Linked DNA regions of Homo sapiens: region 1 is reported to be linked to region 2. The links are microRNA targets in miRTarBase. Many come from high-throughput screens and were not tested one by one. Region 2 holds a microRNA gene; the other region holds the end of a gene's coding sequence.

The links. Region 2 holds the annotated microRNA hsa-miR-4762-5p (CCAAAUCUUGAUCAGAAGCCU, at 980-1,000, opposite strand). A microRNA usually pairs through its seed, bases 2 to 8, with sites in the 3' UTR of a target mRNA and lowers its output. Matches are read on the target gene's strand: a 7mer-m8 pairs with bases 2 to 8, a 7mer-A1 pairs with bases 2 to 7 and ends in A, and an 8mer does both.
Region 1: the mRNA of ADGRG7 is a reported target of hsa-miR-4762-5p. Seed matches in the 3' UTR shown: 7mer-m8 at 2,284-2,290.

Annotation. Positions count from the first base shown.
Region 1 is chr3:100,694,480-100,697,479 of GRCh38, reverse strand. It overlaps ADGRG7 (adhesion G protein-coupled receptor G7), which reads right to left. Exons shown (of 16, transcript NM_032787.3): 16 at 2,001-2,736. The coding sequence ends at 2,479. Among named protein-coding and RNA genes, the nearest start is that of TFG, 14 kb to the left of the region's middle.
Region 2 is chr22:45,758,376-45,761,531 of GRCh38, reverse strand. It overlaps MIR4762 (microRNA 4762), which reads right to left and starts at 1,008; the gene lies at 934-1,008. All of the region lies in intron 9 of ATXN10 (ataxin 10), which reads right to left. RefSeq lists an enhancer at 2,867-3,156.

The sequences.
Region 1 (3,000 bases), not on the chromosome of region 2:
AGTTCCCTGATCCCCGTCACAGGGCATGTGACAGGGGTGTGGCTCGCTGGGCTCCCTGCCTCCTAGGCGGAACATGCAGACAGGCAGGTGAAGAGGTCGTGGGGAAAGCCTTTGGGCCCCAACCCCACAGCACCGTCTATGGGTGGGTGTCTGCCACTCCCAGAGCCCAGGTGGTTGTGTGTTACAGTGTGCGCTTTCAGCTTTGCCATCTGCAGACAGCTTGTGTTAATCAGTTCAATAAGCCCTCTGCCTTATCGCCAGGGCAGAGGGCCAGTGTGATAGCTTTCTGTATCCTGAGTTCTTACCCAGTGTACCGGCAAAATCAAATCACACGTGGGCTTGAAGGATGAGTGCAAGGTTTTACTGAGTGGTGGAGGTGGCTCTCGGTGAGGTGGATGGGGAGCTGGAAAAGGGGAATGGAGTGGGAAGGTGATCTTCCCCTGGAGTCTGGCTGTCCTTGGCCAACATTCAGAAGCCTCTTCCCTCCTTCTCTGCCACACCACCCCACCATTCTCCACCGCTCTTTTCCCCTGCTCTTCTCGATGTTCAGCCCCTTATGTGTGTGTCGCTAAGGTCTCGGGTTTATACGGACACAGGATGGGGGTCGTGGTGGGCCAGAGTGGCCTTGGAAAATGCAACATTTGGGCATGAAAACAGGAGTGCCTGTTCTCACTTAGGTCCATGGGAGCAGACCCCAGGGTGGAGCCCTCACCAGGGACCCTGCCCTTCTCTACTCAGCACTTCCCTGCCCCCACCCATATCACTTGTTCTAAATAGACCTAAAGTTAGCATTATCATATATTTCATAACTCAAACCATGACACTTGAAGGTAAAAGGGGCTGCTAGTAATGCTTAACTCAGAAAAACAGGCACAAATTGGGACTTGCCCAGGCAAACTAAAACACATAGTAATCCTACCAACTCGGTCCTTGGACTTTACATTAACTGATCCATTAAATTACCTTCACCTTTAACCTAATTTGAGTTGGGTTTCTATCATTAAACTGAAAATTGCTGACCGGTGCATGAGACAATGATTTAAATCAAAGGAATTATTTCCTAGTGGTAGGATTCATTTCAGGGTAGACAGAAGAATATCCATGTTCACCTGAATTAGTCACCACAATTGCATGTGGAGCTTGCACATTTATAGTACAGATATTTCAGCAACATTTTATGGAATTTTAGTTACTATGCCCCAAAAGTGCTGAAAAACGTGCAAAGAAAACAACTGTAATTACAAAGGGAAACACATACACTTACCCTCAGGCTAAATATGGCTCTTTGGTGATTTTTTTTTTTTAACATTTAAAGTGGCCCTAACTTAAGCTTAATTTTCATCTGAATACAAATTTTGAGTCAACCACATCTTATCATTTTCCCTGTGCCCAGCTACTATTTAGGTGCAGCCCTATGATGCCACCAAGAACACTGGCTTTTGAGGTCTGCTTTTATTCTTTATTCTCTTCCCTTTACTTTTTTCTGTTCTCCTATAAATATAGGCTCTTGTTGGCTTGCCCAGGAACCCAAAAGTCTTCTGCAACTATTTCTCTAGAAAACACACATTCTTTAGGGAGTGCCAAGCCCACATGACATTTGTTAATCTCGGAATTCCGTGCACTGACAGCAGCTGTCTTGTTTATGGCAAAACAGAAAACAGCAATTTAAAGACTATATATCCTAAGTCCAGTGGGAATGCTCACCACCCAAATAGAGGCCATTTTTTTTAATGAGGAAGCCATTCATAATTCAAGTGTTTGACTTTCCATGAGCAGTTAAATCTTTTAAAAGCCATAAATGATGATTATGACTAACTTCTCATTTTGGGGGTCTCAGTGCCACTTCAGTGAAAGAGCAAATATATTAAGAACTGGAAGGAAATATCCATTTAGTAACAAACTAACCTGTCTCGCTGCCCATTTCTTACAGAGCCAATTCTCCTGGTCACAAAACACACTTTTTTTTAAACAGAAAAAAATATCGCTTTTCAAAGTTTGAATTGGTGCCAAATTCTTCATTGGAAATAAAAGTACAAGCACATACGACTGTAAAATATTCAGAGGTCAAAAGTTTAATACATACAAGCAAATCCCCACACACTGTTCATCAGGAGTCATTTTGTTCTGGAAGGTAAAGTTTTCTCTTTGTGTCCTTTATAGTAACTTGTAAAAGAATTTGTTATAGGTTCTACATTTTTGTCAAAGTGTGTCACAAAGATTTAACGATATAAGGAACAATGGTACTCTTGTATGTTGTGTGAAATTCTTCACCTTATTCAAGTACAAATCTATTGAAAAATAGAAAAACTACCAAGTCCATTATGCCGAATAATAATAAACAACAGGTTTTATCTAATTCTTAATCCTGAGCAAAATACATTGAGGAAGACTTTCTGAGAGGACTGGGAAATAAAGGAGAGAAACAGATAAAACTCAAACGAGGTGATTAAAAAGACCACAACAGGTAAGTTTTACTGTCTAGATGCTTTCCTTTGCATTGTCACTTTCAGAGAGTGTGATTTCCTCAGTACTCGGAGAGGTTTCCAGTAGCCTAAAGCGTTCATGTAAGGTTGGCAATGACCTGAGGAAATTATACATCTTTACACGCAGCCTCGGCCGCGTCACTGAAGGCAATGACTTCCTTCTCCCAATAGACGATAGCAACATCAACACTTTGGAAGCTTCACTCTGGAAGACTTTTGTTCTAACAGTGTACAGGATAAAAATTTGCAATCCCTGCAGATAGAACAAAAGTTTAATGTTGGGTAAGTGCTGAGATACAGTATCAAGGAAGACATTTTATTTCACTCTGCCACCCAACCTTCTCATCTGCACGGCACTTCCCCAACTTGAATTTGCCAGTGTGCAGCTGCCATGCACTTTTTAATCTAAGAGGGTTGAGGCAAAGTTTTCCCATATACAAAGACCTACATGTAACAGTACAATAGCAGATATAGAAGACCCGAGTTCAGGTCCTGGGTTGCCACTAGCTGGCTGTGT
Region 2 (3,156 bases):
CTTCCATAAAGGTTGGTGAGAAATGAAAATTAAGTAAACACAGTATTACATAAGTGCTTAGAAAAGTTTAACTGTGAAAACAATGAACAGATTTAAAAATATTCATTTGTTCATCCCTAAAAGTTTACAGAGCACTCACTGTGGGCCCGGAACTGTGCCAGGGGCCCTGGAGAGAATGAGGAGCAAACAGACATGGAGCTTACATGCTAGGCTTGTAGTGTTTTAGATGGTAATACAGTCTCTGCTCAAAATCACCAATATAAAAACATTAAAGTCCCAGCTACTTGGGAGGCTGAGGCTGGGGAATCGCCTGAACCTGGGAGGTGGAGGTTGCAGTGAGCCGAAATCACGCCACTGCATTCCAACCTGGCGACAGAGCAAGACTCCGTCTCAAAAAAATAAAATAAAATAAAATACTGAGGTCACCCTTGAAAACATAAGCCAACAATGAAAATTCAACTTCTTTCCCAAAAGGAAAACAACAATAATGAAACAGAATAAGCTACCTGAAAGAAAGCTTCCTCTTTCATTACTCTTTATCAAATTACTGTCTCTCACATATGTCCTTTTATTTCCAGGCTTATCACCACCCTCCAACCAGGCCTCCACTGCTGTAGCAACCTTTTAACTGGCTCAGGAATCCACTCCGCACACTGGGGCTCTTATCAGTGAGGATGGGCTGGTTCGTGCTGCAGTAACAAACAATCCACAAAAATCTAAGAGGCTTAAAATGAAAGTTTCTTTCTTTCTCATGCCACTTAACAGCTGTGTGGCCTTGGGTACACTACTGAACCATTCTGGCCCTCAGTCTCCTCATCTGCAACATGGGAGAGGTATCATCATTAAATGAGGTAAGAGACGAATACTCAGAACTGTGCCTAGGACACAGGACACACTCAATAAGCAACTACTATTGCTGTAATCGTTGTTATTCTTGACACCACAAATCTTGATCAGAAGCCTTCCTAGCTTCTGATCAAGGCTTCTGATCAAGATTTGGGGTATCAGAAATAATGGGATATGACTACACCCTATCATCTAGCCATCTGTCTCCCACAGTAGATCATGAGCTACTTGAGAACAAGGACTGCCTCTGACTCCACTGTTGAACTGCAGAGGTTCACAGAAAGTGGCACATGGTAAGCACTCAGAAAGTGCTTGCTGCACTAAAGGGAACGATGTTGAATAATAATCACTGGTACGTGAATAAACCCCACATGTGCTGGACATACACAGAGTCCCATATTAATGAGGGCACACTCTCAGATGCATCTGGCCCGCAGGAAACCTGACTAAAAGCACATGATGAAGATAGGGAATGTCATCTGTAGGTGGGAAAGATGGCTTTACAGGCCCAGAACCAAGCCACAGTTGAGCTAGGCCACCAGTACATGGGCTACTGCTCCCAGGGAAGTCTAAGCAAACGAAGGAGGATGTTCCACGTTGTGGAATTAGCACAAATCTATCTCCACGTGGGGAAAGAATGTAATTCAAGATTCCCCCTGTTCCTCCTTCCTTTCTTAGGGCCATCATTCCCCTGCCCCATGCTCTCCTGGCACACTGGCACACAACAGCCAGCATGGAAAAAACTTTCTGAGGGGATAGAGGTGCTCTCTGTACCTTGACTGGGGTGATAATTACACAGGTGCAGACATCTGTCAAAACTTATCAGCCATTCATTAAAAATCTGTGTTTAGCTGTATGTAAATTAGAAAGAGAGAGAAGCAAGCGATGGACAGTGCTGACTGTTATATGGTCCCTTAGCTCATGCCGGCAGCTGAGGTGTGACCCCATCCCACCCCATCCCCTACAAAACTAGAGCTTTATGAAGGGCAGGGTGGCTGGGAGGGAGGAGCTGATGCAGCTTGGTAAACTGGCCTCTGGAGGACATTATGAAACCTTGCTCATCCTCGTGCAGCCTCAGCTCCCTCAGGAGGCCTTTCCTCCTGCTTCATGGCACAAGAAGAGTACGGAACCCTCACCCTGATCAGACTGCTCTAGAATCTTTTTTGTTTGTTTGTTTGACACGGAGTCTTGCTCTGCCCAGGCTGGAGTGCAGTGATGCTATCTCGGCTCACTGCAACCTCTGCCTCCCGAGTTCAGGTGATTCTCCCGCCTCAGCCTCCCGAGTAGCTGGGATTACAGGCATGCGCCACCACGCCCGGCTACTTTTTGTATTTTTAGTAGAGACAGGGTTTCACCATGTTAGCCAGGCTGGTCTTGAACTCCTGACCTCAGGTGATCCGCCCACCTCAGCCTCCCAAAGTGTTGGGATTACAGGTGTGAACCACCATGCCCGGACTCTAGAATCTTTTACTATTTATCATTGTCCCTCTAAGCTTCAAGTTACTTGAGGGTGAGGACCTTTTCTTCCCCTTCCTTCTCTCCAGCACCTCGCATAATGCTTGGCACACAGTGTGCTCTTAATCAATATTTGTTTCTCTGGCAGTAAGTTTCTAAAGTTATCTTTAAAGATATGAGATATACTGCCTTTAAATAAGAATGGTACTTCTAAGTAAGAATAATGTCTAAATTACATTAAATCTTGTTAACTCTAAAGATTTAAATCTCTTCTTTTTTGGAGAGGTATGACTCCTACTGTCATGATTTATGACTCCATAAAAGCCATGTATTTACTGGGCAGAATAAACGGTAAGCTTGGTATGCATAACACAGCACTAGAATTCTTGCTATAAAGATTACTGATGCCTCAGGCTGTTATAAACGAGATGTCACATGAAGCTATGCATCAAGAGCTTGCCCTGAAGACAAAAACATCGCATACTGCTCTATCAAGTCCACGTTCAGTTACAGCTCCTGGCGCTCCGCAGTGGCTATGTGTATGCACATGTGCGTGTGCAAACACATGGCCAGTGTGTTTAAATGAACACCTGGCAACCCAAAAACAACATCTTAAAGATAGCTGTCAGAGCATGAAACATTGCACTAACCAGGAACTTCCATGGTTGTGGATTAGCAGAATAACACATCAAAGCAACCTTGAATTACGTGTGATATGCCTTAGGAAACTTCAGTTTCTGATGACCAATAATTTGAATCTAATCTTTTGAACCAAAAAGAATTATGTATTTTGTTCCAAGCACAAAGTCAGTGGCTATAGCTCAAGCCATGAATATGTAATTTCCTAAAAGTAAA